Regions from separate parts of the Homo sapiens genome. Here region 2 is linked to region 1. The links come from fine-mapping of genetic effects on gene expression. A gene starts in region 1. The other region holds a variant in brackets. All regions are shown on one strand. Distances are between the middles of the regions.

Region 1 (5,221 bases):
GTTACCTGGGAGCAGGGGGAAATTGCTGCTTCCCTTGCTGAAGTTGGATGCACAGGCACATAAAATTCAGAGGCATTAGACTTCCATGGTGAGCCGGAATCACAAACAAACCCCAGAATGTGTTGAAATCTTACCCTTAAGTTTAAATGAGGAGGTTAAAATTTGGCACAGAGCAGTTTATAGATCACCTTCTGCATCTACTTCACAACCCTATTAGGTCAGGTTGATAACTATCACTATTGTTATCATCATCTCCATTTACAGACCAGGAACCTGAGGCTGAGAGAGAGAAGCACTTGCTCAAAGTCACACAACCACAATGGCACATCAGGATTCGATCTTAGGTCCTCTAACAAAGCCCTCATTAGTTCATGAAAGGAGCACACCGCAAAATGGAAGCGAGGCCCTTGCCCCAGAGATTGCCACCTCTCTTCAACAGCCCCTACCACACATAGGCGTGGGGAAAGGAAAGAGAGATCAGATTGTTACTGTGTCTGTGTAGAAAGAACTAGACATAGGAGACTCCATTTTGTTCTGTACTAAGAAAAATTCTTCTGCCTTGAGATGCTGTTAATCTGTAACCGTACCCCCAACCCCGTGCTCCCTGAAACATGTGCTGTGTCGACTCAGGGTTAAATGGATTAAGGGCTATGCAAGATGTGCTTTGTTAAACAGATGCTTGAAGGCAGCATGCTCGTTAAGAGTCATCACCACTCCCTAATCTCAAGTACCCAGGGACACAAAACACTGCGGAAGGCCACAGGGACCTCTGCCTAGGAAAGCCAGGTATTGTCCAAGGTTTCTCCCCATGTGACCATCTGAAATATGGCCTCGTGGGAAGGGAAAGACCTGACTGTCCCCCAGCCCGACACCCGTAAAGGGTCTGTGCTGAGGAGGATTAGTAAAAGAGGAAGGAACGCCTTTCTGCAGTTGAGACAAGAGGAAGGCATCTGTCTCCTGCCCGTCCCTGGGCAATGGAATGTCTCGGTGTAAAACCCGATTGTATATTCCATCTACTGAGATAGGAGAAAACCGCCTTAGGGCTGGAGGTGGGACATGCGGGCAGCAATACTGCTGTTTAAGGCATTGAGATGTTTATGTGTATGCATATCTAAAGCACAGCACTTAATTCTTTACCTTGTCTATGATGCAGAGACCTTTGTTCACGTGTTTATCTGCTGACCTTCTCTCCACTATTATCCTATGACCCTGACACATCCCCCTCTCCGAGAAACACCCAAGAATGATCAATAAATACTAAGGGAACTCAGAGGCTGGCGGGATCCTCCGTATGCTGAACGCTGGTCCCCTGGGCCCCCTTATTTCTCTCTACATACTTTGTTTCTGTGTCTTTTTCTCTTCCAAAGTCTCTCGTTCCACCTAACGAGAAACACCCACAGGTGTGGAGGTGCAACCCACCCCTTCAATAGGCCTAAGGACAGGTCTATGGCCCTTGGGATTCTTATTCTTCTCGTTGCCTGCACATATGTAGATATAATGATAATGCATGTGCACAAGCCCACACACGCATACACACACACATGCTCACCTCCCCCATACTGCTTGCTCTAATTTCCACTTCTACTCACTTCATTCTCAATACCCATCTCCCATTTGAAGGCACAGAATTCAGTGTCAGATGCTTCAATGAGCGACTGAGATGAAAATGTGACCTCTCACCCATTTTTCCTTCCATATCCCTTTTTCCTAAGTGCCCCAAACACACACACCCACACACACACCTTCCAGGTTAGCATTGTAAACTTACTCAGATCCTGCAATTCCACCTCCAAGTGGGAGAGTCTCTTTATCACTGCCCCGTAGCGTTTATTCAGATGTAAAGGAAGCTCCCTGTGGAGACCACCCGTAAACAGGTTTTGTAAAGTCCCCTTGCTAGAAAATACCAGAAGGAGATTGACAGCAATGGCCAGAGTCAGCCCAATGAAGAGGGCTTTGGGGAGTTTCCTCCAAAACATCATCTTCTTCCTGGGGGTCGTCCACTCCCTGTGGGACTGAGTGTGTCACTGCTGGAGCAGGTTAAGAATCAGAACCAGCCTAGCTTTTGTGGGAAAGAGAGTTCTAGGTGCCAGTTGAGTTGGTCTCCCCTGTGTGAGACACCCATGGGAAGCCACGGGTGGCCTCTGAGGAGCAAAGTCTCCTTATTGCCTTCTTTGTCTTTATGCCCCGAGAGGATAACCGCTCAGCGGCTTTCCACAGGTTGCTCAGCGGCTTTCCACAGGTTGCTCAGGGAGATAACACTCCCTTGAAGCAGAGGAGTATAATCAAACATCTTGGCTCCTCCTGAAACCCACTCCCACCCATTTCAGTCATTAAAGATCTTAAGTAGTTTAGACACACGCCTTTGCTCAAGGAAATTCACAGAAACCGCCACTGTTACACATCTTATCGAATGACTCACTGATTAATCCTTTTCCTCATCCCTTCCTCCCCTTCCCATCTGCCCTAAGAACAAAGAGCTTGTAAACCAATAAATTGGGTGGAGCCCAGAGCTCTGGGCCGTGAGCAAGCCTCCAACGCTCTGGTCCCCTGGACCTGCCTTTTAAACGCTTGTTCTGTCTCTTTCTAACTCCTTTGTCTCCGCCGGACTCGGGGTATCCGCTGGGTGGTGTGGGGCTGGTTTCCCCAACAGCTTTCTCTCCACCCAGCTTCATAGATGACACCCTGCCTGCTAGGCCAGATGTTCTCCGGCCAAGAACACTATTATAGCTGCCTGGCTTCTCCCTGAGCAGCGTCAGGTGTGAGGAGTGCGCATGGCAGCTGCCCAGTGACAGGTAAGTCACCTGGACACACCTTGTACTGTCTCAGAAGTCAGAAGAATGCTTGCTCCTGCAGCTAGCTCAGGCTGCCTGGGTGAGAGGCTTTTCTCTATATATGTTTGTTTGATGTTTAATGTTCTCTCTCCCTGGAAAAACCACCTGGGAGACTCTGATAGGGCATGTGAGGTCTGGTCCTGTGGGTATAAGAAGGGGATAAATAGGATGAAGAAGAAATCACGAAGCAAGAAGTCTCTGTACACTTAGATCCTTGCTTTTTTGGAGAGCTGGGATCTAAGATGTCTTTTTACCTAACTCTACAGGGTTTTGGACATAGTAGGTGTGCAACAAATGCTTGTCCCACAAACTTAAGGACAGACTTTCTTGCTAGTTCCTAGGACTTCACTGCCTAGAAGCAGGTGGAGAAGAGCTGGAGGCGGTGCCCGGGGTTGAGCCTCAGGGGATGACTCCGATTCACTGGTCTCTGTCCTTTGCTTGTCCTCTGCACAACTTCATACACTGGGCTTCTGCCCTGCCCCAGCTTCCAGTAACTCCTTTGCCTCCACACCTCACACTTATAATATGTTTTGGACAAATCACCAGTGATCATCATTGTAGAATAAACACATAAAATTGTTCCCCAAGGCTAAAAGTTCAAAGTTCTCAGTCTACTGTCAATCCCGTCAAAATCACAGCTTCCACCCCGGCCTGGCTCTTTGGACTATTTACTACGTCCCAAACACAGCACATGGTGACATGTGCTGAGGCGGACATGTGGATTAAAGGAAAGTAATGTGGCTTTAGGAAAAACAGGATGAAAATGAACAAAATGAAAAGGAATCACTTCTTCTGTTTCGCAGGGATAGAAAATGTCTCCCAGCCTCCCACTTGCAAATTAGACTCAAAACATAAGAAACGCATGATCCAGCCAGGCGCAGTGGCTCACGCCTGTAATCCCAGCACTTTGGGAGGCCGAGGCAGGTGGATCACCTGAGGTCAGGAGTTCAAGACCAGCCTGGCCAACATGGTGAAACGCCATCTCTACTAAAAATAACAAAATTAGCTGGGCATGGTGGCAGGCACCTGTAATCCGAGCGACTTGGGAGGCAGAGGCAGGAAAATCGCTTGAACCCAGGAGGCGGAGGTTGCAGTGAGTCGAGATCGCGCCACTGCACTCCAGCCTGGGCAACAAGAACAAAACTCCATCTCAAACAACAACAACAACAACTACAAAAAACAAACAAACAAAAAAGCATAACCCTTCTGCTTCTGGGACAAGAAGAAATACCTACATTTATCTTCTCTATTCCTTCCCATCAAGGCAAGTAAAAAGTACACATGATATGTAAAACAAACCTAAGAAGACTCTGAAAGGTAGAGAGAACAGGGCAGGCTGACTAGAGATCTCCAGATATCCTAGCTATTGTAGGAAATAGATTCCAAGTTGCTGGATGCTGGAGCAGTCAACAACTTGGAAATGCAATGGGCAGAGACAATAGAAGCCCCAAGAAAAAGCTGCTTTCTCTAACCAAAGAAACAGGAAATGGGAAGCCTAGCAAGACAGAAGATGTTTAGACAACAACTGCCCTACTCCAGCCAAATGCCACTGAAAACCTTGCAGTGCCATGCCCACCACATCCACAGAGGCCTCGTGGGGAGCCTAGACTTCCAACCTCACCCCAGCTGTGAGGGTTTGCCCCTGCATCCCCCACCTTCCCCTCCAGGGTGTGTCAGTGAAGGTCTCTTGGGGAGCTGGCATTTTTGTCATTGTCCCCACATGATATCAGTAAAGGAACAGTGGCCCTCCCCTTTTCAGCCAGTGTGGTGTCAGCAGAGGGCTAGTGGGGAACCTGAACTCCCTCCCTCACCCATCAGTAATGAGGCAGCCCTCCCCACCAGGTGTCAGTGGAGGCCAAGCATGGAACCTGGGCTTCCTCTCCCACCTGGCAGCGATGAGATGAAATCTCCCTCTCCCCACCAGAACAGTGTATGAAAGGCCTGCTAAAACAGATTTACATAGGATCCAGAGTCTCAAAAAGTTATATTCAGAATGGCCAAGATGCAATAGAAAATCACTTGTCATATCAACAACCAGGAAAATCTCAACTTGGAAGAGCCTATCAACAGACAGCAACACCAGCCGGGCATGGTGGCTCATGCCTGCAATCACAGCACTTTGGGAGGCTGAGGCAGGAGGAGGATGGCTTGATTCCCAGGAGTTTGAGAGCAGCTTGGGCAACATACTGAGACCCTGTTTCTACTAAAAAATAAACTTTTTTTTAAATTGGCATGGCATGGTGGCTCACACCTGTAATCCCAGCACTTTGGGAGGCTGAGGCAGGCAGATCACTTGAGCCCAGGAGTTCAAGACCAGCCTGAGCAACACGGTAAAACCCCATCTCTACAAAAAATTTAAAAAAATCAGCCAGGCATGGTGGCACATGCCT
Region 2 (5,490 bases), 97 kb before region 1:
ATTAAGGGGTACCCCCACCTGCAAAGGGGGCCGTGAAGGTGACTGGGGAAAAGAATGCATGCTGACGGTGAGGACCAGGACAGTGGAAGTTTGAAAGCCACTGGAACAGGGTAGGAAAACTCTGGGCCAGGGGCTGGCTTGTGGGTTCTGTCCCTTCTGCTAACTATAAGACCCTGCATTCTTCCCAAGGAAGAAGGCAGGAGCAGGTGTGTGAGGAAAACTCGAATGCAGTGTCAACCACTGAGAATGTTAAAATGGGAGAGGGAGATCAGTGGCAGTACTGAGAAAGGGATCCATAGAAAGATGTTCCACGTATATATGCTACACACATATAGAATATATAGCACCATATGTGTTTGTGTATATACGTGGGTATATGTATAAGCATGCATGTATGTGCCTGTGCATACGTGTGTATATGTTTGTGTGTGCATATACGTGTGTATACATGTGCATATGTATATTCATGTTTCTGTATATATACGTGTGTGTATATGTGGTTTTGTGTGTGCATATGTGTATATATGTGTATGTGTGTGTTTTTGTGTATGTATGTATGTGTATGTATGTATATATATTTATGTGTGTATATACGTATGTGTGTATATGCATATGTGTGTGTGTGTGTGTGTGTGTGTGCACTTTCAGGGACCCATAGGGAACAAAAGCACAGGACACCTGCTGCTGCTCCATCAGAGACAAGCTGGCATGTAAACAGAAGTCTATAAACACATTTAGGAGCTATGGCTTCATTCTTCTTGCCCAATAACAGTTAGACCCTCACTGCATTCCATTCTGTTCCATCTCCCCTGAAGAGGATGAAACACACATTACTGTGTGCCTTTAAAGACATCACAACCCCTCTGAGCTTCAGTTTTCTTATCTGCCAAAGAAAAAAACAAAGCCTAGCCTACCTACTTCATTTCACTGCTGCAGGATGATAATAACAGCTGACATTGTACATTTAAACACTGTACATACATTAATTCATTTAATCCTCAAAACAACCCTATCAGATTGGTACTATTATTATCCTCCATTTGACAGAGAAAGAAACTGAGGCCACAGAACTGTTTCATAACTTGCCCCATGTTACCCAGCAAAGGAGGGATTTGAGCCGCGACGATCAGGCTCCAGCAACTATGCTCTTAAACCCTTTGTTAAATCGCACGATGTCTGAAAGCACTGAACGTGTTTGACAATGTTCTGTAAATGAATAGCACCATTCTTATTCTTGCTAGGACTATTCCCAGTGGGAAGGATGCAACGCAAGGTCAGGATTCCCTAGGTGAGGATAAATCCTGCAACCTCAGATCTGCAGCCCCACTAGCCAGGTGCCACGCTTCCAGTGGCAAGTCCTCCCCGCCCCTCCCAGCTGCAGGACTGTCTTCCTATGTTCTTTTTCAAAGCAGTGTCTCTGCTGCCAAGAGCAGGTTTGTCTGTCTCCTGGAGACAGCGGTTGTCAAGCCCTGAGAGAACAGCAAGCATGTCAAAAATAGCAGCGCCAGCAGACTGCGTGGCTGCAATTTCCTTTTGAAATGTCGCCTTTGCTCTCACCAAAGAGCCAGGGTCTGTCTGCGCTCCTTGCAGCCTGCAGCAGAAGCTGCTTAAGATTCCAAAATGTTTTCCAGGAGGAGGTAAAGTGTATCTGCTGAGGCTCGTGACCGAGGAGTGAGGAATTCTCTTTAGAGTAACAATGATGAGGTTGGAGTTGGATTAAAAAAAAAATTGTAATAAATCCCATCAGGACTAGTCCCCAAACAGGTCAAGTGATAGCCAAGGTTAGACCAGTGCGAATGATACTTCCTGTAGGGTAGGAACCTTTCCTCTTTTGTTCTGAAAATGAGGGAGTCCCTCTCCTATTGTTAATGTGCACCTTCAAACACAGCAGCTGCTTTGATAACCCTTCAAAGGCAGTGGCTGATAGATTTCCACTCCCCCTTTAGGGTACCAGGTGAAGCCAGGGGATGAGGACCAAGAAGACCAAGAGGCAGGGTGAACTATTTTCTCAAGTTCAGAACAAAGGGACATGAAAAACATGACCATTCCCAACCCCACAGAGACTCACTCAAGGCCAGCACAGGAAAGTGGTTCATCAGGAGACCTGGCAAGATGAGAGGCTAAAAGCCCATCTGTCTTTCTTCCCCGCGGCCTATGTCTGGGAAGATCCCTCTCCCTGCCAACTGCCAAGCTCCAGACCCTGTTCTGCCATGAGCTATCTGTGCAACCCAAGGCAAAATATGAAGCGGGATGGAGAGAGGAACTCCTACCACCTAGTAAATGGAATTCTTTTCCTCCCCTAAGTGACTGTGACAAGGTAGGATTGGAGGACACTTTCCTCCCCACTTCCTTCCCATGGCAATAACACACAGTCAAAACCCATGTGAGCCAGGATGGCAGCTCCAGCCAGATTGTCCTGGAAGGACCACGCTCTCTGGGAATCTATCTTGGAATGTATGTTGAGTTGCAGGCAGATAGAAATGCTGCTGCAAGCAAGGGCTCAGCCAGCGGAGAGGAGAAATGACAAGCCACAGGACTGGCTGGTGCATCTGAGGAAAGCACCAAGGAGAGGGAAGGGAGGGTCCAGTGGGCACAAGGCAAAGCAGGCCAAGAGGGGATCAGAGTCTGGGAGAGAATCATTGAAAGGCTCAGTAAGACAAATGAAGGCCGTTACCGTCCACTTCTTTTGTTTACCGGAAGCACCAAAGACTGCTGGGACCTCTTCATAGGGCTGTTAAGCATCAATAACGACTGTAGAGGGACTGTAGGTAGGGGGCCAGGGAAAATAAAACCTTTATGTACCCACAAAAAAAATTTCAAAAAATTCAAAAATAAAATAATAACCATAGTAGATAAATACATAAAACCTTGGGCCCTATGCAATCTCTTAAGGAATTCTGAGTTTACAGGTGCAGGGATTTGGTGGGGTTTTTAGTTTGTGGGAACTTTTCTTGGAGTTTTTTTCTTTTTGCCAGCAAAGTGTAAGTTCCCTGGGCAAGCTCAAGACCGTAGTCCTGTATAATGAATAATGTTCAACATATATATCATAGTTCAGTGCATGCTAATTATGCCCTGCACTTACCCAAAAAATGGCATGACATATCTTTAGAGGAAAAAAAG[A/G]AAAAAGAGAAAAGCATGTAACTCTCATAACAATTTGATGTCAAAACGAAGCACACACAGACACACACACACACACACACACACACACACACACACACACACACACACCAGTTCGTGGTATTGTGCATGAATAGCAACGATCGACTGCATATAAGCTCTAAAGTGTCCCCATGTGGCAGAAGAAAAAAACTGTCATTCTATTCTAGATATTGTCTGGTCCATTTTTAGACATGCTAAGCTTCTAGATTTATAGGACCAAACCGTTCTCCCAGCCCAGATGGAAAACTCCCAGATTATTAGACTCGTTGCTTTCTTTTTTTTCACAATTCAATGATTTTGGGGTGCGATTTTTAGAGTTGTATGATTATTACCACAATCCTGCTTCACAGCATTTCTATTATCCCCCAAAACTTATCTGGGGCCAATTGTAATAGCACAACCTTCAACCCCATGGGGGCCCCTCAGGTTGTCCTAGTGTCCTGCTGCAGGTGGGACTTAGCCCATGCTCTAAGACTTCTAGCAAGGAGACCATCAATTCTCCTTGCGGACTGCCTGGTGAATCTTAATCCTCCTTGTCAAGGAGTGTTCCCTGCACCTTGCACCACAGAGATTTATGTCCTTTCCTTTTGTTCTGCCTTCAGTACCCGAGAGAGACAGCCAGATACTAGCAAAACCTTCAAGTGAATTAAGGGCAGTTCTAAAGCCATCCCCTATTTAAGGCTTTTTCCAGGCTAACTCCAACCTTATGCCTGCCTCCTAAGCCCTCTTTTCTCTGTTTATTTGACATTTCTACTGTTCCTCTGTCTTTGACCTCTCTGCCAGCCTCCTAAGCTTGGAGAACCTGAGGTGGTCCAGGGCTACTCAGCAGAGGATTTGTCTGAGACTTCTCAGGGTCATTCTCTCCCTCCCAGCCTGCCTTCTCTCATTTATGCTTGCAGGTTCAGGAAATTTCTGGGAGACATTTTTCTGAGCCCATGGCAGTCTCATCTTGCTTGGCAGGTTCAGGACTTGCCTCCACAGAGGTGAGCATGGTAGGAAAGAATGGCAGAGTGAGAAGTCAGGAAAAAGTGGAATACTCCTGCTGCAGACAGACCTTAGCAAGCACAGCTGTCCTACAGTTCAATGTGCGACCTCGACGTCAACACTCTAGGTGCTCCCAGCCACTGAAAAGGTGGAGAGAGGGAGAAAGATAAGCAGGAAGACACACATAGAAGGAAGAAGATGGTAAAAGAACAGAGGGGGAAAACCAGAAGAAAGAAAACTGGAGAAAGGGGAAAAAAGGCAGAGACAGTAAGAATGAAAAGAAGGAAAGAGAAAAATGCACAGAAAAAGAGATAATTTTTTACAGGGGCCAGCAGCATCAAGGGGACAGAAACAGAGAAAAAGGAAACTGAAGTTAATGGAGTCAAAGAAAAATACACAGAAAAAGCGAGGTAGCCCCTGAGGGAAGGGGAATGAAAACCTTGCCTCTCTCCAGATGCACACGCTTCCCCACTTTCTCTCTCTCCCCACCCCGTTCTAATTTTGCCTGCAGGACTGAGCCAAAACCAAAATTCCCCTCCAGTAGAACCTACCTCACCTGCAAAGAAGGCGAGCTGTCCCTCCTCGCTCCTTGGGGACGAATATCCCGCATCTCAGGCTGAGGCTGGCAGCTCCAGGAAGTCCTCTGGGAGCTCTTTCCGGCTTGAGTCAGGTGTAGTGATGGCTTGGACCCTTCCTGTGAATCACCACCCCAGCTGTCCAGGCAACCCAGAGTGCATATTCTCTTGGTGCTCAAGGCACAAAATCCAAATAAAGAGGCTCAGGGTCCGAGAGGGATCACTTGACAAAATTCTTCACAGAAACTAGGTCGAGCTACAGCCTCTCAGTTTTTCTTCGATGTCTTAAGAAGAAAGATCTTTGAGATTCCTCCCAGGAGCTAGATAGGCCGTTCCCAGAGAGGAAGAAGTTGCAATTCTCCGCCTCTCGTGGAGCTGGGAAGAGCCTGCCTCTGCGGAGATGGGAACTCCATGATACCTAAGACTATGATCACACCTGGTAAGGCCCAGCTTGGCCGCCACTCCAAGAAGTTGTCCCCTCTAAGGGCTCCCCTCGACAGCTTGAAAAAATTAATACTGACGTTGGTTTAACTGGTTGCTTAACATTCAAATTTCTGAAGAATCAGGAGTAAGATGAGGCAGCTTCAATGACTGGGTGGGGAAACTAGGAAGAAAAGTCCAGACAGGAAGCTTTGAGGCCCTGCTTCCTCCACATTTTCCAAAAGTCCCACATCCGTGCCCTGGCACTCCCAGCCCCTAAGCCACGATGTGGGAGGTGCTCCCATTTGAGAAGCTGGGAAGATGTAGTCCCCTGGTCTCCCTTGATGCCCAA

What was found.
Region 2: its variant is fine-mapped to the expression of GALNT8 in whole blood (TOPMed, PIP 0.92).

The regions. Positions count from the first base shown.
Region 1 is chr12:4,717,436-4,722,656 of GRCh38, reverse strand. GALNT8 (polypeptide N-acetylgalactosaminyltransferase 8) reads right to left here and starts at 2,257. Exons shown (of 11, transcript NM_017417.2): 1 at 1,769-2,257. The coding sequence starts at 1,979. GAU1 (GALNT8 antisense upstream 1) reads left to right here and starts at 2,555. Exons shown (of 4, transcript NR_110112.1): 1 at 2,555-2,792. RefSeq lists enhancers at 149-1,144, 1,145-2,140, 2,141-3,136.
Region 2 is chr12:4,813,988-4,819,477 of GRCh38, reverse strand. The region is part of intron 1 of KCNA6-AS1 (KCNA6 antisense RNA 1); the gene reads left to right. It also overlaps a transcript of KCNA6 not described here. Among named protein-coding and RNA genes, the nearest start is that of KCNA6, 7.4 kb to the right of the region's middle. The variant A/G (reference allele first, on the strand shown) is at 3,121.